Linked DNA regions of Homo sapiens: region 1 is linked to region 2. Evidence: fine-mapped expression QTL. A gene starts in region 2. The other region holds a variant in brackets. All regions are shown on one strand. Distances are between the middles of the regions.

Region 1 (11,591 bases), 62 kb after region 2:
GCAGGGGGGCAAGAGCATTCAGGTGGGGGTTGGGGGTTCCTTGCTGAGAGAGCAAGAATGGTGCCCCCAGGGAAGAAACCAGCGGGAGAGGCCTCCAACTCCAACAAGAAGTGTAAGCGTTACTTCAACGAGCACTGGAAAGAGGAGTTTACCTGGCTGGACTTTGACTATGAGCGGAAGCTGATGTTCTGCCTCGAGTGCCGCCAGGCCCTGGTACGGAACAAGCATGGCAAAGCCGAAAACGCCTTCACTGTGGGCACAGACAACTTCCAGCGCCACGCCCTGCTGCGCCACGTGACCTCAGGAGCCCACCGCCAGGCTCTGGCTGTCAACCAGGGCCAGCCCCCTTTTGAGGGCCAGGCTGAAGGTGGAGGGGCCTGCCCAGGCCTGGCTACGACCCCTGCCTCCAGGGGCGTCAAGGTGGAGTTAGACCCGGCCAAAGTGGCTGTGCTGACTACTGTGTACTGCATGGCAAAGGAGGATGTGCCCAATGACCGCTGCTCTGCCCTGCTCGAGCTGCAGAGGTTCAACCTGTGCCAGGCACTGCTGGGCACAGAGCATGGCGATTACTACAGTCCCAGGAGGGTGAGGGACATGCAGGTGGGTGACAGCCAGAAGTATGGGGGAAGGGCTTGGGAAGGGAGGACACTGAGCCACCTGGGAACAGCCCCAGCATGCCAGCTCCTTGGGGAGCAGCTAGGGCATTTCATTCATATCTTCACCCTTCAGAACCTTCCCTGAGAGCCTATGTCCCTGGTCCTGGGCCAGCTGCAGGGATACAACAGTGAAGAGGCCAGACCAGGCCTCTTAGCGGGCACAGGGGCACTCTTCTCACTGCCTAAATCAGACGTTGCAAACTGGTGGCCTGGAGGCTTGATTGACCCACAGATGTATTTAATTTTTTTTTTTTTTCTTGAGGAATCTCACTCTGTCACCCAGGCTGGAGAGCAGTGGCGTGATCTCAGCTCACTGCAACCTCTGCCTTCCTGGCTCAAGTGATTCTCCTGCCTCAGCCTCCCTATTAGCTAGGAATATAGGCATGTGCCACCACGCTCAGCTAATTTTTGTATTTTTAGTAGAGACGGGGTATCACCATGTTGGCCAGGCCAGTTTCGAACTCCTGACCTCAGGTGATCTGCCTACCTCAGCCTTCCAAAGTGCTGGTATTATAGGTGTAAGCAACCGCGCCTGGCCTCTGTTTTTTGTTTTTTGGTTTTTTTTAAACATAGAGATGGGGTCTCATTATGTTGCCCAGGCTGGTCTTGGGCTCCTGGCCTCAAGCAATCCTCCTGCCTTGGCCCCGCAAAGTGCTGGAATGGAAATGGAAATGACTTTTGACTTAGTTTTCTTTTGGGGCTGTTTTCTGTGCTGAGCCTGTTTAATTGGTTTTCATAATGTTTTTGAAAAACTCGAATGTGTTTCAACTTTTAAAAAACTCAGGAGATTACATATAAAAATCTAGATTTGTGACTTGTGTTGAAAAGCAAGGTCCCCATGCTCTCAGAGCAGGATGTGCTGGAGTTGGAGAGCAGGGTGTTCCCTCTGGCTTATCCCTGGCCCTCTCCAAGCTCAATATCACTCACATGGCCCCTGGAAGCATGCAAATTGCAGCTCTGTCCTAGGTACTAACTGTGTAAGTCCTATGGGCTGGGTTGGAGGTGGGGGAGTTGGATCTCATCCTACAGAGATGACAAATAGAGAAACAGCACACAGCTGGGACCCAGGGTGACTGGTTGGGAGTTGGGAGTGAGTGTGCCTATCAGTTAATCACTGAGCTGGACAGTGGAGGGAGACCCCCAGGAATAGGGCAGACTAGGATGATGCTATAGAAAAACACAGTGAAAAAACTAGCTTTCCTAGAGCTCTTTATGATTCATAAAGTGCTTTTACCACAACAAAAGTTGATGTTTATAATTCACAACAAGCTTTGAGAAGATTTCGGGCTGGTATTAGCTGACAGCAGGTATAAGAGCTGAGAAAACTAGACCGGGTGTGGTGGGAGGCCGGGGTGGGAGGATATTCTTAGACAGGCCAGGAGCTGTAGAGATGAGAAAACTGAGGCTCGGAGAGGTGAAGTGACTGGCCGAAGGTAGCACAGCCAGTAAGTGGCAAAGCCAGGATTAGTCCCTAAGTCTGTCTAACCTCAAGGCCTGGGCTCTTTCCACCACCCCGCACTGCCTGCCTCCGCCTCTCAGGACAAGCCTAACTCAGTCCTCCCTCCCTTTCTTTCCCTGGCTGTCCCAGGTGGCCATTGCCAGTGTCTTGCACACAGAGGCCTGCCAGCGCCTGAAGGCATCCCCATATGTGGGGCTGGTGTTGGACGAGACCAGAGACTGGCCGGAGTCACACAGCCTGGCCCTGTTTGCCACTTCAGTGTCCCCCTGTGATGGCCAGCCCGCCACCACCTTCCTGGGCAGTGTGGAGCTACAGGAGGGCGAGGCCACTGCTGGCCAGCTCTTGGACATCCTGCAGGCTTTCGGCGTATCTGCACCCAAGCTGGCCTGGCTCAGCTCAAGCCTCCCCAGTGAGCGCCTGGGGAGTGTGGGCCCACAGCTCCGGGCCACTTGCCCACTGCTGGCAGAGCTGCATTGTCTCCCTGGCCGGACAGATCCTGAGCCCCCGGCCTACTTGGGTCAATATGAGAGCATATTGGATGCCCTATTCCGCCTCCATGGTGGCCCTAGTTCCCACTTGGTCCCTGAGCTCCGGGCAGCACTGGACCTTGCAGCTATTGACTTGGCAGGGCCTCGGCCAGTGCCCTGGGCCTCCCTGCTGCCTGTAGTGGAAGCAGTGGCCGAGGCCTGGCCTGGCCTGGTGCCCACCCTGGAGGCTGCAGCCCTTGCCTCACCTGTGGCGGGGTCACTGGCCCTGGCCCTGCGCCAGTTCACCTTCGTGGCCTTCACCCACCTGCTGCTGGATGCCCTGCCCTCTGTGCAGAAGCTCTCCCTTGTCCTGCAGGCAGAAGAGCCGGACTTGGCCTTGCTGCAGCCTCTGGTGATGGCGGCTGCGGCCTCCCTCCAAGCTCAGCGCGGCTCAGGTGGGGCCCGCCTCCAGGGCTTCCTGCAGGAACTGGCATCCATGGACCCTGACGCCAGCAGCGGACGCTGCACCTACCGCGGCGTGGAGCTGCTCGGTTACTCCGAGGCTGCGGTCCGGGGCTTGGAGTGGCTCCGGGGATCCTTCCTGGACTCCATGCGGAAGGGCCTACAGGACTCCTACCCCGGGCCTTCGCTGGACGCCGTGGCCGCCTTCGCAGCGATCTTCGACCCCCGACGCTACCCGCAGGCGCCGGAGGAGCTGGGCACGCATGGCGAGGGGGCGCTGCGGGTGCTGCTGCGCGGCTTTGCTCCTGCCGTGGTGCGCCAGCGGGCGCTGGGCGACTTCGCGCTGTTTAAGCGCGTAGTATTCGGCCTTGGGCGGCTCGGCCCGCGGGCCCTGTGCACCCAGCTGGCGTGCGCGCACTCGGAGCTGCACGAGCTCTTCCCCGACTTCGCCGCCCTAGCCGCCTTGGCTTTGGCGCTGCCCGCGGGCGCTGGCCTGCTGGACAAGGTCGGCCGCAGCCGGGAGCTGCGGTGGTGGGGGCAGAGTGGGGCCGGGGAAGGCCGGGGGGGCCACATGGTGAAGATCGCAGTGGATGGGCCCCCGCTGCACGAGTTTGACTTCGGGTTGGCTGTGGAGTTCTTAGAGAGTGGGTGGGGAGAGGGCTTCCTGGGGTCGCAGCTCACCTGAGGGTGGCCTCCTTCCCTCGGCCCATCCAGCCTGGGGCCCTGGGCACTGTAAGGGCCAACCTAGACTTGACCATGCTGCACCCAAGATGATCTGCTGACTGCAGCCTCCCAGGGGCCTGAGGCCATCCACCCGCCCTTCTGGAGCTTCCCACCAACCCCCCCCACCCTGTGGGCTGTGGAGGAAGGGACTGGCTCAAGAGGGGCCTGGGCGGGTGGGCAGAGATGCTAGGATCTGGGGTACCCTAAATCATTCCTGGCCTTTACACAGTTAGATGAGGAGTAGCTCACCCTTTTCCCTTCTGGACTCGGGGCAAGTTTGGGTCCCCCCAAAGATGGGAGTTTTTGGCTTGGGGAAGGAAGACTAGGTCTTGGAAATTGAGTGGCTGAGGGAACGGACACTGGTCCTTGGTCCTTGGCTGTTTCTTTCTTTTTCTTTTCTTTTTTTTTCTTTTTTTGAGATGGAGTCTTGCTCTGTCGCCCAGGCTGGAGTGCAGTGGTGTGATCTTGGCTCACTGCAACCTCTGCCTCCTGGGTTCAAGCAATTCTCCTGCCTCAGCCTCCTGAGTAGCTGGGATTACAGGCGCCTGCCACCATGCCTGGCTAACTTATGTATTTTTAGTAGAGACAGGGTTTCACCATGTTGGCCAGGCTGGTCTCGAACTCCTGACCTCAAGTGATCCACCTGCCTCGGCCTCCCAAAATGCTGGGATTACAGGCATGAGCCACTGCGTCTGGTCCTTGGCTGTTTCTTAGCCCCACTCCTGGCAGTGTCTCTTCTCTTCAGCTATGACTGGGGAGTAGATGACCGTGCTTGTTTCTGACACACAGCACAGTGTCCTCTCTGTACACAAGCTGGTGGTTCAAGGGCCAATGGTTCCAGAGAGATAGTGGTTCCCTTCCTTCCCTCCTCACCAATAGGCAGCCTCAGGCCTTTTCTGTGTATAACTGTGTATATAGACATAAAAACCTACAAATGTGAAATAAATCTATGCTATCTTTCATAGTGTTACCACACAAACATCTAAAAGGACTACTTTTGGTTTTGCAATGACAGGGTCGAAAAAAGCCCCAGATGGGCTGGATTTTTTTTTTTTTCTGATATTTTCTTCCTCAAAGTCCAGTTGCTCTCCAAGTTCCTACCCCTCCCCTGCCCTTGCCTCAGACCTTTAAGACCAAAGACTGCAAAACCACAGTGCTGTACCTGCCACCTCCAAGGACTGGCGTCGAGGCCCAACCCAGGAATGTTGGCTTATTTACCTCCTGGGGGAAGCAGTTTAGGCCTCATCAGAGCTGGGGAGCACATCCCTTCAGAGCCCATGGGTTTCCCATTCCCTCCTGTCAGCCCTGGCCATGAAATCCTGGGGATCTGGAGGGAGGGAGGATAGTTAGAGAGTGAGAGGGGCGAGGGCTAGCCTTTTCCTAATACCCCTGGGTTTGAGTTTAATTTGCAATAAAATGGAATCCCAGCACATCATGCAGTCTCCATGGTGGTGTGTGTGTCAGGGCCTGCCCAGACCCCTCTGTCCCTCTCTTGGCTGGGCTGCCCTGGGGTTCAGTATGCTGCCTCAGTAGGGGCAGGAGGGTCATCCCTCTGGGCTGGGAGCCTCAACTGTGGACTCCCTGCCTCTGCTTCCCCAGCTGTGGGGAGGAAGGGCACAGAGAAGGGGGCTATAATCACTATGGGTCTGGCTGGTGCCACTCTGTGAAGAGAGACACAGGTTTCTGCCCAGCTCCACACCCAAGAAGCCCACCCGCCTCTTGTTCTGGCCACGGGGGTAGGACAGAGCCCATTTCAGACCCTGCCCTTCTTCCTCCTGCAGCAGGCCCGGCCTCCGGCGCCCCCAGCCCCCTGCTGGCCTCCCTGCCCCTGCCCACCCGGCCTCTGCAGCCCCC[G/A]CTGGACTTCAAGCACTTGCTCGCCTTCCACTTCAATGGCGCTGCCCCGCTCAGTCTCTTCCCCAACTTCAGCACGGTATGGGCTGGGCTGGCGGGTGGGGGCATGCACACAAGCTTGTGGGTGGGCACAGAAGGTGGGTTCAGAGGGTCCAGCTCTCAGCAGCTGGGTCTAACCAGGAGCTTTTTCTCCAACATCCCCCAGAGGGGATAGGTGCTCCCCAAATAGGGACCCCTATTTGGGATCCTAAGAGAGGGACCCGCTCTCTCTTAGGCTGGGGAACAAGATGGTGTCAGCCCTTTCCCCACCCCCACCATCATAGCTGCTGGGCCTGCAAGGGCCTGTAGTCTGTGCATTCCACTTAAGCTTCTGTGTAGGCGCTCCTGTGGATGACGTGTGTGTGTGTGTGTGTGTGTGTGTGTGTGTGTGTGTGTGTAACCTGTGCCTTTTTGTTGTAGTTTCTATAGGTTTTGTATGTTATATGTGGATGTGAGTTTGTGTGTTGGTGTCCAACGTGTGTTTGTAAACAACTCTTTGTGCATGGGTAATTTTATGTAATTAAGGTATGTGCCTGCACAATCTGAGGGTTTATTGTGTCCTTGTGTCTTTTGTGTGTTTGGCGTGTATCTGCCCTCTGAGCATGCGTGTTTTTGTGTGGCTTGGGTGATTGTGAGTTTACCTGTGGTCATGTGCCCTTTGTGTGCATGAGTGTGAATTGTTCTGCTTGTCTGAGCATTTGTAACTGCCTGAAGCTTCTGTGCTGTGTGTGTGTCCTAGTCTGTACATTTCCTTGTACACGTGTGCATAACAAGTATATGAATTTTAATTCACTATATGAGGGATCAGCAACCATCTCTGTTTTTTTAAATTTTGAAAACTCAAGTGAAATCATGGGTGTGGCATGCCCCATCCTGAGCAGATGGTGGCAAACTCCACCTCAGTCACACTTAGGAATCCCTTCCCTCCCACCCTCCAGAGTTAGACAGAGGTCCTAAGGAGTCTGAGGCATTTGGGGGGTGGTCCTCTGGTCTTGAGTCCTTGCTGTCGCTTGCTGACAGGCTCACTGTTGAATGGCATGGTTCCAATTGCAGGGGGCCCCTGCAGGCCATTCTCCTCTGAGGTCCTGTCCCCTGAGCCCCTTGCTGGCCCTGGGTGCTGTGAAAATTTGAACCACTTTCTGTTCTCAGGGAAGTTTCTGCACCCATGTTCTTCTCTCTAAGCTCTGTTTTCTTTTCTTGGGAAGGTTTGGAAAGTTCCTTTTTTATTTTATTTTATTTTTATATAAGCAGAGATGAGGTCTCACTATATTACCCAGGCTGGTCTCAAACTCTGGAGCTCAAGGGATCCTCCCACCTCGGCCTCCCAAAGTGCTGGGATTACAGGTGTGAGCCACCACGCCCAGCCTGGAAAGTTCTTGACAAGTTCAGACAGCTGCATTTGGCCCAACTTCCTGAGAAAAGGGAACATAAAGCCTTAATTCTATAGAAGAAAAAAATGATTTAAAATAAGGAAAAGAAGCTAGGTGCAGTGGCTCATGCCTGTCATCCCAGCACTTTGGGAGGCTGAGGTGGGCTGATCATCTGAGGTCAGGAGTTTGAGACTAGCCTGGCCAACAGAGATGGTGAAACCCCATCTCTACTAAAAATACAAAAATTAGCCGAGCATGGTAGTGGGCACCTGTAGTCCCAGCTACTTGGGAGGCTGAGGCAGGAGAATCGCTTGAGCCCAGGAAGCGGAGGTTGCAAGATTTTGGCTCCGCCATTGCACTCCAGCCTGGGCGACAAGAGGGAGACTCCATCTCAAAAAAATAATAAGGAAAAGAAAAAAAATCCAAATTAATATTCCAAAGAAACGATCCTACTCCTTGGGGAACCTTAGGCCTCCACTTGCTGCTCCCTGCCCCCTACTGGCCCCCCACCTCCCCTGGCTGTGGCTCTCACTCTCTCAAGAGAGGTCGTCATGGCTGGGCACGGTGGCTCACACCTGTAATTCCAGCACATTGGGAGGCCAAGGCAGGCGGATCATTTTGAGGGCAGGAGTTCGAGACCAGCCTGGCCAACATGGTGAAACCCTGTCTCTACTAAAAATAACAAAAATTAGCCAGACGTAGTGGTGGGCGCCTGTAATCCCAGCTACTCGGGAGGCTGAGGCAGCAGAATCACTTGAACCTGAGAGGTGGAAGTTGCAGTGAGCTGAGATCATGCCACTGCACTCCAGCCTGGGCGACAGAGCAGTATTCCATCTTATAAAAAAAAAAAAAAAAAAAAAAAAAGGTCGTCAGCAGCCTCAGGCCCTGTGACAGTGATAGAGCTGATGAGATAGGACTTATCTTCCCCCAGCCCACAGGTCCCTGCATGAAGCCTGGGTGATGGGAGAGGAAATTCCAACAGACGAGTTCTTTGTCTCTTCCCTGCCTCTCCTTGTTTCCAACTCTCTGTCCCAATAGTTGTAATTATTGCAAAGGAGAAAAACAAAAAACAAAAATAATGACCTAAGGGGCACCAAGAGATGCCAAGGTGATCACCAGGACATGGTTCTATGTCCCAGAAACATGCAGGGCACTCTGGCCATTCCCCTGCTTCCAAGCAGAAGCCTAGGCTGACAAATAAAGACAGCCGGGAGAGGCTGTGTATTTTTCTTTTCTTTTCTTTTCCTTTCTTTTCTTTTCTCTTCTCTTTTTTTTTTTTTTTTTTTTTGAGACAGAGTCTCACTCTGTTGCCCAGGCTGGAGTGCAGTGGCGCAATCTCAGCTCACTGCAACCTCTGCCTCTGAGGTTCAAGCCTCCTGCCTCAGCCTCCTGAGTAGCTGAGACTACAGGCACGTGCCACCACACCTGGCTAATTTTTGTATTTTTAGTAGAGAAGGAGTTTCTCTTGGCCAGGCTGGTCTTGAACTCCTGACCTCAGGTGATTCACCCATCTTGGCCTCCCAAAGTGATGGGATTACAGGCGTGAGCCACTGCACCCAGGCAGCTGTTTCTTCTTCTTTCTTTCCTTTTCTTTTTCTTTTTCTTTTCTTTTTTTTTTTTTTGAGACGAAGTTTCGCTCTTGTTGCCCAGGCTGGAGTGTAATGGCCTGCTCTCGGTTCACCGCAACCTCCATCTCCCTGGTTCAAGCAATTCTCCTGCCTCAGCCTCCCGAGTAGCTGAGATTACAGGCATGCGCCATCACACCTGGCTAATTTTGTATTTTTTTTTTAGTAGAGATGGGGTTTCTCCATGTTGGTCAGGCTGGTCTTGAACTCCCAACCTGAGGTGATCTGCCTGCCTCGGCCTCCCAAAGTGCTGGGATTACAGGTGTGAGCCACCGCGCCTGGCCCAGCTGTTTCTCTTTCCAACATCCACAGGATGGAAAAGTTCTTCCTAGAAGCTGACCAAGGCCCTCTTCAGTCATCTTTAGTTTTGGGCATTTTGTGCTGCCCCCGACCCCTGCTTCCCAAGCCAACCCCAGAGTTATTATGCCCTCCCACTCCCTTCACAGATGGACCCGGTCCAGAAAGCTGTCATCAGCCACACGTTTGGTGTCCCCTCCCCTCTGAAGAAGAAGCTGTTCATTTCCTGTAACATCTGTCACCTGAGGTTCAACTCAGCGGTGAGACAAAGTAGTGAAAGCAGGTCTGGGGAGGGGGCTGGGCAGGGAGAGGGCTGGAGGCTGGGCTTTCAGAGTCCTTCTGGGAGGAATATCAGTGGCAAAGGGGCTGTGGTCGGTATTTTCCACCCTGGCTGCAGAAGAGGCACTCTTGGTCCTTTAACCATCGCATCCTCTCCTCTCTCTAGATTCTTCTGCCCCTTCCCCTTCTGCCCAGCTGTAGCCCAGTGGGATTCCATTTCCTTCCCCCCAGGCCTCTCTCCTGTGTTCTGGATCCTTCTGCAAGAGAGAAGACTGCCCTTCCTCCACTCCAGGTCCCAGTGGCCCATCTCATCAGCTCCTGGTCTGGAGCTGAGCTCTTAAGGCACCTGAGAGTTTACAGAATGTGATCATGCCCATCCCCTTAAATAATAGTTTTCATGATACATCTGTGAGACGGGTGGAGGCGGGATTTTTTTGTTTTGTTTTGTTTTTTTAGACAAGGTCTCACTCTGTCACCCAGGCGGGAGTGCAGTGGCGCAATCTTGGCTCACTGCAGCCTCCACCTCCAGGGTTCAAGTGATTCTTGTGCCTCAGCTTCCCTAGTAGCTGGGATTACAGGCATGTGCTACCACGCCTGGCTAATTTTTTTATATTTTTGGCAGATACAGGGTTTCACCATGTTGCCCAAGCTGGTCTCGAACTCCTGGGCTCAAGTGATCCACCCACCTCAACCTCCCAACATGCTGGGATTACAGGTGTGAGCCACCGCGCCTGGCCTAGAGGCGCTATTATAATCCCCGATTTTCAGATGAGGAAAGTGAGCCTTAGAGAGGTTAAGTGACTTGCCTAAGACCACACAGCTGGTAAGTAGCAAAGCTGGGATATGAATCCAGGCCTGGCTGACCCCAAGGTCTATGACTTTCTACTACAGCCTACCCCTTTCTACTACATCTTACCACTAGGTAGAGGAGGAACCTCATTCTGGCCTCCCAGGGAAGGTCTACCTCCTGTTAGGCAATCTGGGGTTTCGGTTGGATGCCAGCAGAACTGCTGTGGTATAGCATCCAGGGAGGGGCCATGGGGGCCTGTCTTTCCCATGTTTCAAGGAGGTGGGCCGGGGAGCAGCAAGTGAGGACCCTTGGAGGGAGGACACTGACAGACCAGATTTGAGGATTCCCTTCAGGCCTTCTGGTTCCATGAGTCCTGCAAGAGATGGAGGAGAGGCTGGGCGTGGTGGCTCATGCCTGTAATCCCAGCACTTTGGGAGGCCAAGGTGGGTGGATCACTTGAGGTCAGGAGTTAGAGACCAGCCTGGCCAACATGGTGAAACCCCATCTCTACTAAAATACAGAAGAAAAAAAAAAAAGCAGCCAGTTGTGGTGACAGGTGCCTGTAATCCCAGCTACTCGGGAGGCTGAGGCAGGAGAATCGCTTGAACCCAGGAGGCAGAGGTTACAGTGAGCCTAGATTGCTCCCGTTGCACTCCAGCCTGGGTGACAAAGCGAGATTCCGTCTCAAAAAAAAAAAAAGATGGAGGAGAGAATTCGTTCTGAGGGAGGAACCATTCTTCTTCCTGCCGGACCCCGGGCACAGTGCCTGGCAAATAGCAAATGCTCAGTAATGACTTGTTGAACAAATGAACAAAGGGATGAATGTTCTGGGGTACATACACCCCAAAGTGTGGGGATTGCTCTGCTTTCTCCATTTGTGCATTGATACACTTGATAACTAACATTCATTGAGCACCTACTCTATGTACTCGGCCCTTGTAATTCATGTTCCCATGTAATTCTGACAACCCCATGAGGTCAGTATTATCATCACAGGGTTTATGGGTGAGGAGACTCAGGCTCAGAGAGATGTTACTTGCCTAAAGATGTAGTTAGTGGCCAGGCGTGGTGGCTCACGCCTGTAATCCCAGCACTTTGGGAGGCTGAGGCGGGTGGATCACGAGGCAGGAGATCGAGACCATCCTGGCTAATATGGTGAAACCCCGTCTCTACTAAAAATACAAAAAATTAGCCGGGTGTGGTGGCGGGCGCCTGTAGTCCCAGCTACCCCGGAGGCTGAGGCAGAAGAATCGCTTGAACCCGGGAGGCGGAGGTTGCAGTGAGCTGAGATGGCGCCACTGCACTCCAGCCTGGGCGACAGAGCGAGACTCCATCTCAAAAAACAAAAAACAAAAACAACAACAACAACAACAAAAAGATGTGGTTAGTAAGTGGCTGGGTCAGATCTGAAGCCAGAGGCAGCCTGCCTTGGAGTTCATGTGCGAGAACACATTCTGCAAACCTCAGAGCCACATGTGCTATGGTGATGATGATGACAAGGACAAGGACTTGCCCTTTGTGTGACCTGAGCCCTGCCTCCCTTTGACCTGTCCCCCTGCTGGGCTCCAGTTCA
Region 2 (11,591 bases):
TCCACTCAGCCGCCCTTATAGGATCCTGTGTGGGGCCCCAGCCCAACTCAGGACACCCCTTGTCTCTCTTCCCAGGCCAGGGGCCGTGCCCGGGCCGATCAGAGTGTATACGCGTTTGTAGCAACTGAAGGTAGCCGGGAGCTGAAGCGGGAGCTGATCAACGAGGCGCTGGAGACGCTGATGGAGCAGGCAGTGGCTGCTGTGCAGAAAATGGACCAGGCCGAGTACCAGGCCAAGGTCTGCAGGCAGCCTGCATGCCCTGTGGGAGGGATGGGGAGGAGGGAGCCCCTCCCTGGCAGGTTTCTGACTGCACACATACGTCCCCCTGTCCCCTCTACATCTCGGGGCTAACTTTGGCCACCTAGGGAAGGTTTAAATAAGGGCCGGGGTGGGGCTGCCAGGGAAGGCAGTACCTGGACTCCAGAAGGCCTTGGGAACAGGCCTTGTCCAAGGCTCTTTATTTATCTTTGCCATGAGATACTTTATGTATCTGGAAGAGCTGCATTACAGCCTTTCTGGAACCAGGCAGAGGGGACAAGATAAGTCCACGTGCAGAAGATAAGCCCAGAACTAGGACTTATATCATCAGTTCCCCTGAGGCAGGGCCACCACCATCCTGCCTTGTCCAGGGTGCTCCCTGTTGTCCCAGCATAATTGTTAATGATGCCCCATGACAGATTCACAGAAGCAGCTTTGCCTAAAGTCCTTCAAGATTGAGCAGGAAAGCTTACCCCTCCCACTGTTGCCCCCGACTACTCATACTGTTTTTCTCCATAGCTGTTTTTTTTTTTTTCCCCGAGACGGAGTCTCACTCTGTCACCCAGGCTGGAGTGCATGGCACAATCTCCACCTCCTGGGCTCAAGCAATTCTCTTGCCTCAGCCTCCCGAGTAGCTGGGATTACAGGCATGCGCCACCATGCCCGGCTAATTTTGTATTTTCAGTAGAGATGGGGTTTCACCATGTTGCCCAGGCTGGTCTCGAACTCCTGACCTCGTGATCCACCCGCCTTGGCCTCCCAAAATGCTGGGATTACAGGCATGAGTTACTGCATCATCACAGCAATAGAGCTTCTTTTAAGCTCCAGGGAGGGTTAAGGAAAGTCTCTTCCAGGTACAAATGATCTTAGTTCTTTGGGAACCTTTTGTCCCCCAAGGAACGTTCTCTTAGGCCCCAGCCATGCCTGGTGTCTCCTCCCACCCCAGATCCGGGATCTGCAGCAGGCAGCCTTGACCAAGCGGGCGGCCCAGGCAGCCCAGCGGGAGAACCAGCGGCAGCAGTTCCCAGTGGAGCACGTGCAGCTACTCTGCATCAACTGCATGGTGGCTGTGGGCCATGGCAGCGACCTGCGGAAGGTGGAGGGCACCCACCATGTCAATGTGAACCCCAACTTCTCGTGAGACCTGTGGAAGGGGCTACTGGGATGGGGGCCTGGGAATCCTTCCCATCCAGACAGTGCTTTGAAGCTTTGGGAAGCTAAAGAGCATTGTAGCAAGTACTTTGCATTTTCACAATAATCTGGTTAGACAGGTTTTATCCCTGTCTCCATTTTACAGGCAAGGAAATAGAGGCTCAGAGAGGCTATGTGACTTGCCCAAGTTCCCACAGCCACTATCTGGTTGAGCAAGAACTGGAATTCAGGATACTAAGTGTCAAAAGACCACACATTGACCCTCTGGTCCTACCTATTCCGAAGATATCAAGAGAGCTTGGCCATCCCTGGGCCATCCTCCATCCACTATCTCCTAGAGAGTAACCTTCCCCCATCCTCCATCCATTCATTATGTTACCCTCTGTGTTCCGGGCCACTGTGCCAAGGATCTTCACACAGATTTTCTCAATTGAGGAGGTTGCATTTCAGCTAGGTCTCAATGGGTCTGGTTTGAATGTGAGCGAATGAGAAGGTAACCATGGAGGGCCAGGTGCAGTGGCTCACGCCTGTAATTCCAACACTTTGGGAGGCGGAGGTGGGTAGATCACTTGAGGTTAGGAGTTCAAGACCAGTCTGGCCAACATATTGAAACCCCTTCTCTACTAAAAAAAAATACAAAAATTAGCTGGGCGTGGTGGCCCATGCTTGTAATCCCAGCTACTTGGGTGGCTGAGGCATGAGAATCACTTGAACCCGGGAGGCAAGCCAAGATCGCACCACTGCACTCCAGCCTGGGCAATAGAGTGAGACTCTGCCTTTAAAAAAAAAAAAGCGACACCAGTTGACCTGAGTGGAAGGGACTGTGAATAATGAGATTTAGAAAAAGACAGACTAGCCCGTGGAAGATTTGAAAGGTCAGGTGTGAAAGTGTAGCCTTTATCCAGGAGGTTCCTCTTAGGAATCTTGGATAGATTTTAAGGAACAGAATGTCAGGGCAGATTTATATTTTTAGATCCCTCTAGCAGTTGGTGGAAGGATGGCTTGGGATTGGGAGTAAAAATGGAGGCAGAGAGACCCATAAGGAGACTGTGAAGACCAGGTAACCGATGCTGAGGCTTGAACCTGGGCACAAGGGAACGTGCGATGGAGGCCACACAGGTAGAACTCACCAAAGATTGGATTTCCTGGCCTGGGAAGTCTGTGCCTCTTAACCAGCAGGAAGGCCCAAGGTCCAGGCAGAGACTTGGCCGGCAGGAGGGCATGAGATCCGGGGCTGAGGAGGGTCAATGAGGGCTGTGGCCACCCCCCTTCCTCTCCAGGAACTACTATAATGTCTCCAGGGATCCTGTGGTCATCAACAAAGTCTTCAAGGACTGGAAGCCTGGGGGTGTCATCAGCTGCAGGAACTGTGGGGAGGTAAGAGCTTAGGCCACGTCCCAGGCCCCAGAGTCCTCAGCCCCAGTCTTCAGAGGCCCTCAGGGAGCCCTCACTAGGACACGGGAGACAGTCCCACCCCATGGCCTCCAGTCTGAAGAGGGAGGTCCAGCCCCTCCCTAAGGGAGCCCACAGTCTGTGACATCTCAGGTGGGAGGAAAAGGCCCTGTATTCAGGGAATTCCAACTTGAGGAGAGAAGCCCAGTCTGAGGCCAGAGACCCAGACCCTACCCTCTCTGTCTCACCTCCAGGTCTGGGGTCTGCAGATGATCTACAAGTCAGTGAAGCTGCCAGTGCTCAAAGTCCGCAGCATGCTGCTGGAGACCCCTCAGGGGCGGATCCAGGCCAAAAAGTGGTCCCGCGTGCCCTTCTCCGTGCCTGACTTTGACTTCCTGCAGCATTGTGCCGAGAACTTGTCGGACCTCTCCCTGGACTGACCACCTCATTGCTGCAGTGCCCGGTTTGGGCTGTAGGGGGCGGGAGAGTCTGCAGCAGACTCCAGGCCCCTCCTTCCTGAATCATCAGCTGTGGGCATCAGGCCCACCAGCCACACAGGAGTCCTGGGCACCCTGGCTTAGGCTCCCGCAATGGGAAAACAACCGGAGGGCCAGAGCTTAGTCCAGACCTACCTTGTACGCACATAGACATTTTCATATGCACTGGATGGAGTTAGGGAAACTGAGGCAAAAGAATTTGCCATACTGTACTCAGAATCACGACATTCCTTCCCTACCAAGGCCACTTCTATTTTTTGAGGCTCCTCATAAAAATAAATGAAAAAATGGGATAGAAAATGTGTGGTGTCTTAATTTTGTTGGAATATAATTGGTAGAAAATAAACTGCTTGTATAGTGTGCAATTGGGTACTTTTTTAAAATTGTTTTATTTTTTGACATGGAGTTTCACTCTTGTTGCCCAGGCTGGAGTACAGTCACACGATCTTGGCTCACTGCAACCTCCACCTCCTGAGTTCAAGCGATTCTCCTGCCTCAGCCTCCCAAGTAGCTGGGATTACAGGTGCCCGCCACCATGCCCAGCTAATTTCTTGTATTTTTAGTAGAGATGGGATTTCACCATGTTGGCCAGGTAGTTCTCAAACTCCTGACCTCAGGCGATCTGCCTGCCTCAGCCTCCCAAAGTGCTGAGATTACAAGCGTGAGCCACCATCCCTGGCCTGGATACATTTTAACATGCATATCCTCCACGATCAAGATAATGAACATAGCCATCACCCTCAAAATGTCCTGTTTCTTCCAGTGGAATTTTCAAAGAACAACAAAAGTTTCCTGGTTCCCCATTGAAATCCATACCTCTCACCCTTCCCCATCCAATGACCTGCTTTGTAATTTTTAGTGTTAAAAGTGTTTGGCTTTTTTGAGACAGTCTCACTCTGTCGCCCAGGCTGGAGTGCAGTGGCGCGATCTCAGCTCACTGCAACCTCTGCCTTCAGGGCTCAAGTGATCCTCCTGCCTCAGCCTCCCAAGTAGCTGGGATTACAGGTGCCTGCCACCATGCCTGGCTAATTTTTGTATTTTTGGTAGAGACAGGGTTTCGCCATGTTGCCCAACAGGCTGGTCTCAAACACCTGAGCTCAGGTGATCCACCCACCTCGGCCTCTTAAAGTACTGGGATTACATGCATGAGCCACTGGGCCCGGCCTTTTTTTTTTTGTTTTTGTTCTTATTTTGTTTTTGAGACAGGGACTCGCTCTGTCGCCCAAGCTAGAGTACCGTAGTACAATCATGGCTCACTTCAGCCTCAACCTCCCAGGCTTAAGCAATCCCCCCACCTCAACCTCCCTGGTACCTGGGACTACAGATGTATACCACCACACCTAATTTTTGGGGGGTAGAGGGGCAGTGTACAGACAAGTTCTCACTATGTTGCCTAGGCTGATCTCCAACTACTGGGCTCAGGTGATCCTCCCAAAGTGCTGGGATCACAGGTATGAGCCACTGTGCCTGACCTAGTGTTAAAAGTTTTAGGCCAGGCGCATTTTCTCACGCTTGTAATCCCAGCACTTTGGGAGGCCGAGGTGGGCAGATCACCTGGGGTCAGGGGTTGGAGACAAGCCTGGCCATTTCGGTGAAACCCCATCTCTACTAAAAATTACAAAAATTAGCCTCACATAGTGGCAGGCCCCTGTAATTCCAGCTACTCAGGAGGCTGAGGCAGGAGACTCACTTGAACCTGGGAGACGGAGTTTGCAGTGAGCCGAGATCATGCCACTGCACTGCAGCCTGGACAACACAGTAAGACTCCATCTCAAAAATAAAAAAATAAAAGAAGTTTTAAACACTCCTCTTTAATAGCCCTCCTAAGCCTTATTCATAAAGGGTATCAACAGTCTAAACTTGAGGCCCATCAAGAGTGTGAGGGCTTCCTGCTCCCCCTACCCCATAATAGCTTCCAACCCCGATATTCCCCTCTCCACCTTCCCTTAACCCTCAGATCATCTCCCCTAGGCTGGGGAAAGGCTGAGATCCAGGGTTTGAGGGGTGGGCTCAGGTAGGCACGGGGGTGGGGAAAATTACAAAGGCCTAAATTTTCTGTTCTCATTTTAACAAGAAAGAAAAAGAAAGGCAAGATCTAGGTTGCTTCATCAGGGAAAGGGCTATTTCTGTAGTACAAGGCCCAGCAGGCAGGAGACACCTTCAAGAGGAAGGGAGGGGGCTAGGGCAGAGATTTGAGAGCAGGATGGCAGTCCTTCCTGCCGTCCAACCTCCTTCCCTCCTGCTACATTCTTGGTTCTGTCCCCAGGTAGATGAGAAATGCACCCTGTCTTCTCCCAGCATTTTCTTTTTTCTGTAGGCCTCTTGTCTGATTGAGGGCTGAAATTCCCGTTCCCGTCTTTTTGGCTACCATCTCCCATAGACAGTGTACTTCTCTTTCCCAAGGCCCCCCTCTTCCTCCTCTCAAAGTGTCCTTGGCCCTGGATCCAGGAGTCTCCTTCCTCCTCCCTCCTGTCCCATCTCCAGCTGCCTTCCCGGGGGGAGAGTTGCCCATCCGCTCCCCACTTTGCCTTCAGTTAGTATACTGCCTGCCAGCAACGTGCCTTTTACAGGTCAATAAAATTAGCGACTGGGGGCAGAGGGAGGGGGCAGGGGCTCAGGGGTGCTAAGCTCAAAGGCCTTGAATGTGGCTAGACTCACGGAGTCAGGACGCCTGTCATTCCAGGGCTAAACAGTGACAGCTGGGGGACCTGGGCTGGCGCTGGGGGCGGAGGAGGGGCTGTGTGGCAGGGAGGGAGATGGGCTGAGGATAAAGATGGTCTGGTTGCCTAATGGCCCCCTCAGCGGCCTAAACCCCTACACAGCTGAGCCCTGGAGAGGGCACCCTTACTTTAGAGGAGTGTCCCGTCTCACACCCAACCCTGCCAGGCCCGAAGAGCTCAGATGGAAGGGGACTCAGGCCAGGAGAGGTTTCTGAGCTTTCTTCTTCGTGTGAGGGGTCTTTATATGAAGTCACCCTCTCCAGGGCATCTGGGCGAGGCTGTCTGAAGCGGGGAATTCCCACCCACCCCCCGCACCCCCTGGAGTCCTAACTTCCCAGCCTTCAGAACTCGAGCTCCGGGCCCTCCCTGTGGCTCAGATGCTCTCCCGGGACTTCCCACCTGAATGAGCCCGCGCACCCCACCGGCGGGGCCTCGAGGGAGGGGCCGGCCCGGCTCCCCCTCCCAGCCCCGCCCCTGCCCCGCCGGGCCCCGCCCCTCCCAGCCAGCCCCACACGCAGCGTTCCCAGCCAGGCGAGAGCAGGTGGCCGCGGCGGGCTCCGTCTCTGCCCCGCAGGTAAGACGGCGACGCGGGCTAGTCCACGCCGAGGACCTCGAGGGCAGCGCGGGAGAACGAGGCAGCCTCTTCCACCTGTCCGGTCCTCTCGCCTCAAAATTGGGGGACCCCAAGGGACAGTGAGGATATCCCTATCTCGGCTCTGAGCGCCGACGTTGGGCATCTGCTGGGCGGGACTGAACTCTGGGGCAGTTAGAGGGTCCTGGCTGGTTATCCCTGATGCCAGGCGGGCTCCAAAGGATGGAAAAGAAAGAGCCGGGCATTAGACACGCAGCTTTCTGGAGTGGGGCAGGTTGGGGATGGTGAGGACGGGGGTCCGGAGTAAGGAACCTCGTTGACTGAGAGTGCGCCATGCCTCATCCAAGGGCAGCCTCTTCCCCACCCTAGGGGGTGATGGCTTGACCCAAACTGGGCTTCTGTTCCGTGGGCTAATGAGGTAAAAGCCGCCGCATAGCTGAGCTGGGGCCTGGGATTTTCTAATGAGCCCCAGGGCACCTGCATCATTTATTTACATCTGGGTACAAGGGGGTGAGCAGGGGATTACCCCGATGGCCTAGGGAACCCGGAAAGTCTGGGAACTCAGTAGATCTTTTCTGTGTCTGTGTCACAGAGCCGGCTGGGGAAGGTGATCGCAGATGTGGCCTTATTGCAGACAGGGGAGCATTTGCACCCTCAGTGTTGGGATTTGGGCTGTAGGAAAGGGGTCCTGCCTCCCAGGACCTCGAGGAAGCCTTCCTGGAGGAGGAGGACCTGGGCTGACAGCTTGAATGTGATGCTCAGAGCTCTGAGCCACTAAGGAGAGGCAGCCTTTGGGTCTTGGTGCTGGGTTGAAGTAGAGCAGAGGACCCTGGATTATAGAACAAAGGGAAGTCAGGACATTGCTGTCTGGGTCCAGCTGGGACCCCAGGGACCTTCCTGAGATCATCGCAAGCCTTTGGACAGACACGGGTGACAATGGGGGGAGGGGGGCTTCCTTGTCTGTCTAGATTCCCCATTCCATTGCCTCATTTCACCACACAAACCATCAGAGGCAGAAGTTCGTTCTCATATCCGACCTTCATCCCTTCTGGGTCTGTGCCAGCTTCTTGCTTCTGGGAGGCCATGTGCTCTAGTGGAAAGAGTGGGGGCTTTGGGGTCAGTTAGAGCTGAGTTCTGACACCTCTACCTACTGCGTGACCTTGAACAAGTTTCTTAACCTCTTTGAGTTCACTTAATCACCTGTAAAATGGGGATAATAATAGAACCCACCTCATAGAGTGGCTGCAAGGGTTAAATGAGGGTACACATGTAGAGCGCTTAGCACAGTGCCTGGAGCCTGGCGAGGGCTCAGAAAGTACCAGTGTCCCCTCATGTGTGGGACAGCAAAGCCGATCTGCAGGGAGTGAGAGCGAGCAGGGGAGGGGGGAGTGGAAGGGTTTTTTTTTTTTTTTTTTTAGCTAAGCTTGGCTAGAAAGAGTGCCCTTCACTGCATGCCCCCCTACCAGGGGGAACCTGCCCCCTGCTGGTTCCTGGATCTCTGGACCTCTCTGGGCTGCCCAGGGCCCCTCACCTCCTCCTCTTTTAGTCACCTTGTTTGTGTTGCCTTTTGTCTCTGTAGAGGGGAGAGAGTCCCCCCGCCCCCGCCCAAGGCAGGGACCAGTACCAGCAGGAGCTCACTTGGGCTGTGCCTCAGTGGAACAAGCTCTGGCTTGGAGACCCAACCTGAAAAAAATGCCCTCTTGTCATCACTGCTCTGCCCTCCCACCTCCAGGAGTTGGGATCAAGCCGCACTAAATTTTTCCAGGAAGATAAATAATACGAGTGACTGAAAGTCCTGTTTGGGGATTGTCCAAGCTGTCCTCCAGTGAAAGGACAGCTTCAGGCCCTGGCCTGATCTCTAGGCTGCCAGGGAAGGCTGAGTTCAGTAGCACCCTTAAACCTGGGCAAGGGAGGGAGTGCCCATGCCCTAAGCTGGGGGCTTTCAAAGGCTCCACTCTGGCCCTCCTGCTGCCAGTCCTCTCCCTGTGGGATGAGGCATCAGCAGGGCCGAGGGGATGAGACTGTGAGTCCCCTCCAAGACCACATTCTCCATACCTGTGACTCTGGAGGTCCCTGCCTAGATGGTCACCATCTGGCTCCCAGCCCATGCCAGCCTCTTCCCTGGGCCTGTCTGCCTCAGGACAGGTTATGCCAATAGTGTGTGCACCCCTACGGACAGTGAAGGGACAGCTATTTGCAGGGGCTGTGGATGGAGCAAGGACATGAGGCTGGGTGTCCTTATACATGCACAAGAGTCCCTTGTGGTGCAGACAGGACCCGGCAGCAGGAAGGGGGGTGGCCAGGGTGCGAGTGGAGCTGTCTCCTCTGCACAGAGTCATTCTGATGTGTAAAGCTCAGGAGGCAGATAAATCCAAATTTGTATCTGGTCCTCCAGGTTGTTAATGAAGGTGTATTTGTCAGGGTGAGAGGTTAGAACATATTTCACAGTTTGCTGGCTTGATTTATAACTTTTAAATATTTAGACATATGTCTGTGGGCCGCCATTTGTCCCCTTGCCCCAGGCCCTGTGAGTGTTCCAGGTGGGCCTGGCTGGGCCTGTGACTTCAGCTGCCATTTGGTTAATTCCTTCCCCACTCTCCCTGTCCCCCAGTAGAGTAGCACCCCTATAAAACTGGGCTTAGAACATGCTTACCTGGACCAGGACGGAGTTTCAAGGTGAAATGAAGATTGTCAGTTGTCATCAACAAGCAGTTCCCCTGTGGGCCTCCTGACCTCATTATCCACCACAAAACTGGGACAATTTTTTTTTTAATGTCCTGTGATGCTTGAGAGGGAAGGGCTGGGGAGGAGAGGTTACTTCTCTCCTGTGTGTGGTGAGGGTGTGGGTCACTGGACCCCAGGAGCAAGGAGAGAGCTAAATGGGGCCGCAGCAGCAGGAGGGATGGAAGCTAGCCTGGGGGAAAGCCAGGGTTGGACCCCACCATCCCTCTGGCTGCCCTTCTCAGAGGGAGCTGCGCCTGCCACCCGGGAGGGCCCATGTGTCTATCATGTGGGTTCTCCCATGAGTTTGGAGTTTGGGCTTGGGACAGGGGAGACTGTGGGGTCAGCTGGCCAGGCGGCGGGGGTCATCCCCAGCGGGAATGAATGGTACGCTGGTGTTGACTGTAGTCAAGTGCCCTGTGGCACCTGGACACACCGTCTGTTCAGAAGAGGCATGAAACCTTTATTGTGGCTGTCTCTGCTCACTCATTGTTTCTGATTGGGCTATTTGAGGAACAGCCTGCCACGTTGGCCTCATTAGCATCGTGAGGCTCTTAATGGAACTGGATCCACACACGTGTACAGACACTCACAAACTCACTCAGGTACGCATGCCCGCCTGCACTAACCCCCAGAGGTCTGTGTATAGGGTTGTGCGCTCCTAAACCCCACCCCAGGTCAGACCCACCCTGACACACATGGCTTGTGACACCCATACCTTCACCCCAGTCACACTCTCACTGTCCCTTATTGGTGACTTTTCATTCACCTTGGGTGACCCACTGGCTCCAGTGGCCAAGGGCTGGCTTACTAGAGGGTGGCTGGGGGCCAGATGCCGGCAGCGGTTGGTTAAGCTTTTGGGACAGGAGGCAGCAGCATTGCCCTGGTGAGGCCACCCCCAGTGGGGCTCGACCCCCAAGCACTTTGGCTCCCCCCACGTCTCCCAGGAGAGTGTCTCTGGGTCCTGAGGCTGTCTGTCCTTGTGTAGTTCTCGTGAGCCTCTTTCTGCTTCGGCCTGTGAGTGTGTCTGGCCCTGCGCCTCCTGTGTGCTCCCCATCTGTGTCCTTTCCCCTCTCCTGACCCTGTCCTTTGTTATCTCTGTCTCTCCTCTCCACCCGTCTAGCTCTTTTTTCTGTGAGTCTTTCTATGTCTTTTCTTCTTCCTTTTTCTCTGCCTCCTCTGTCTACCCCTTCTCTCTCTGTCCCTCTCTCTCACACTCCCACTCTCAGTGTCTGACTGCGTGGCTATCTCTCTGGGTGGGTCTTTCTGTATCTTCACCTCTCTCTATATCTGCCTGTCAGTCTGGACATGTATCCCTCTGACTCTCTGCCTTAGTCTCTTGAGGAGTCTCGGCAAAAGGAGAGCCAAGAGTCCTGAAAGAAGGTGACAGCCAGGCACGGTGGCTCACGCCTGTAATACTAGCACTTTGGGAGGCTGAGGCGGGTGGATCACCTGAGGTCAGAAGTTCGAAACCAGCCTGGCCAACATGGTGAACCCCCGTCTCTACTAAAAATACAAAATTAGCTGGGCGCGGTGGCGCATGCCTGTAATCTCAGCTACTTGGGAGATTGAGGTGGGAGAATCGTTTGTACCTGGGAGGCAGAGGTTGCAGAAAGCCAAGATTGCGCCATTGCACTCCAGCCTGGGCAACAAATGTGAAACTCCATCTCAAAAAAAAAAAAAAAAGGTGATAATGCCTCCCAGGGGGCCACGATCACTTCTGGGCTCCTCCACTGCCAGGCAAGGCGGCAGGAAAGGGAATATCACGTCCTAGGGAGAGTGGATGGGCCGAGTGCAGTGGCTCACACCTGTAATCCCAGCACTTTGGGAGGCCAAGGTGGGTGGATTGCTTGAGGTCAAGGAGTTAGAGATCAGCCTGGCCAACATGGTGAAACCTCGTCTCTGCTAAAAAAGTACAAAAAATTAGCCGGGCTTGGTGATGGGTACCTTTAATCCCAGGTACTCGGGAGACTGAAGCAGGAGATTTGCCTGAGCCTGGGAGGTACAGGTTGCAGTGAGCCAACATCGTGCCACTGCACTCCAGCCTGGACGACAGAGTGAGACCCTCTCTCAAAAAAAAAAAAATAAATAAAATAAAATAAAAAGTAAAAAAAATAAAGAGCTGATGGCTCATCTCCTCTAACTCCTCTGTTGAGAACTCCGGGGTTTCGGCTCTGAACTCTGAAACTTTCTTCAGTGATGAGGCCCAGGGTCATAGGCCTGGGAGCAGGGCTGGGGGTCCAGAGTCATCACTCTGGG

Which allele goes with the higher level. Positions count from the first base shown, and alleles are read on the strand shown. Sizes are in standard deviations (SD) of each study's normalised expression.
With allele A in place of G in region 1, the expression in anterior cingulate cortex of the gene that starts at base 6,530 in region 2 is lower (large effect, 1.2 SD a copy in GTEx).

What was found. PIP is the estimated chance that this variant, and not a neighbour inherited with it, causes the effect.
Region 1: its variant is fine-mapped to the expression of ZNF385C in anterior cingulate cortex (GTEx, PIP above 0.99). The same link has a PIP of 0.9 or more in amygdala, aorta, atrial appendage, breast, cerebral cortex and esophagus mucosa.

The regions. Positions count from the first base shown.
Region 1 is chr17:42,031,843-42,043,433 of GRCh38, reverse strand. ZNF385C (zinc finger protein 385C) reads left to right here. Exons shown (of 9, transcript NM_001392013.1): 3 at 5,549-5,697; 4 at 9,099-9,209. It overlaps C17orf113 (chromosome 17 open reading frame 113), which reads left to right. Exons shown (of 3, transcript NM_001358661.2): 2 at 1-600; 3 at 2,245-5,202. The coding sequence starts at 58. The coding sequence ends at 3,729. Among named protein-coding and RNA genes, the nearest start is that of C17orf113, 13 kb to the left of the region's middle. The variant G/A (reference allele first, on the strand shown) is at 5,622.
Region 2 is chr17:42,093,412-42,105,002 of GRCh38, reverse strand. It overlaps ZNF385C (zinc finger protein 385C), which reads left to right and starts at 6,530. Exons shown (of 9, transcript NM_001392013.1): 1 at 6,530-6,593. DHX58 (DExH-box helicase 58) reads left to right here. Exons shown (of 14, transcript NM_024119.3): 11 at 76-237; 12 at 1,205-1,395; 13 at 2,691-2,787; 14 at 3,057-3,592. The coding sequence ends at 3,242. RefSeq lists an enhancer at 1-600.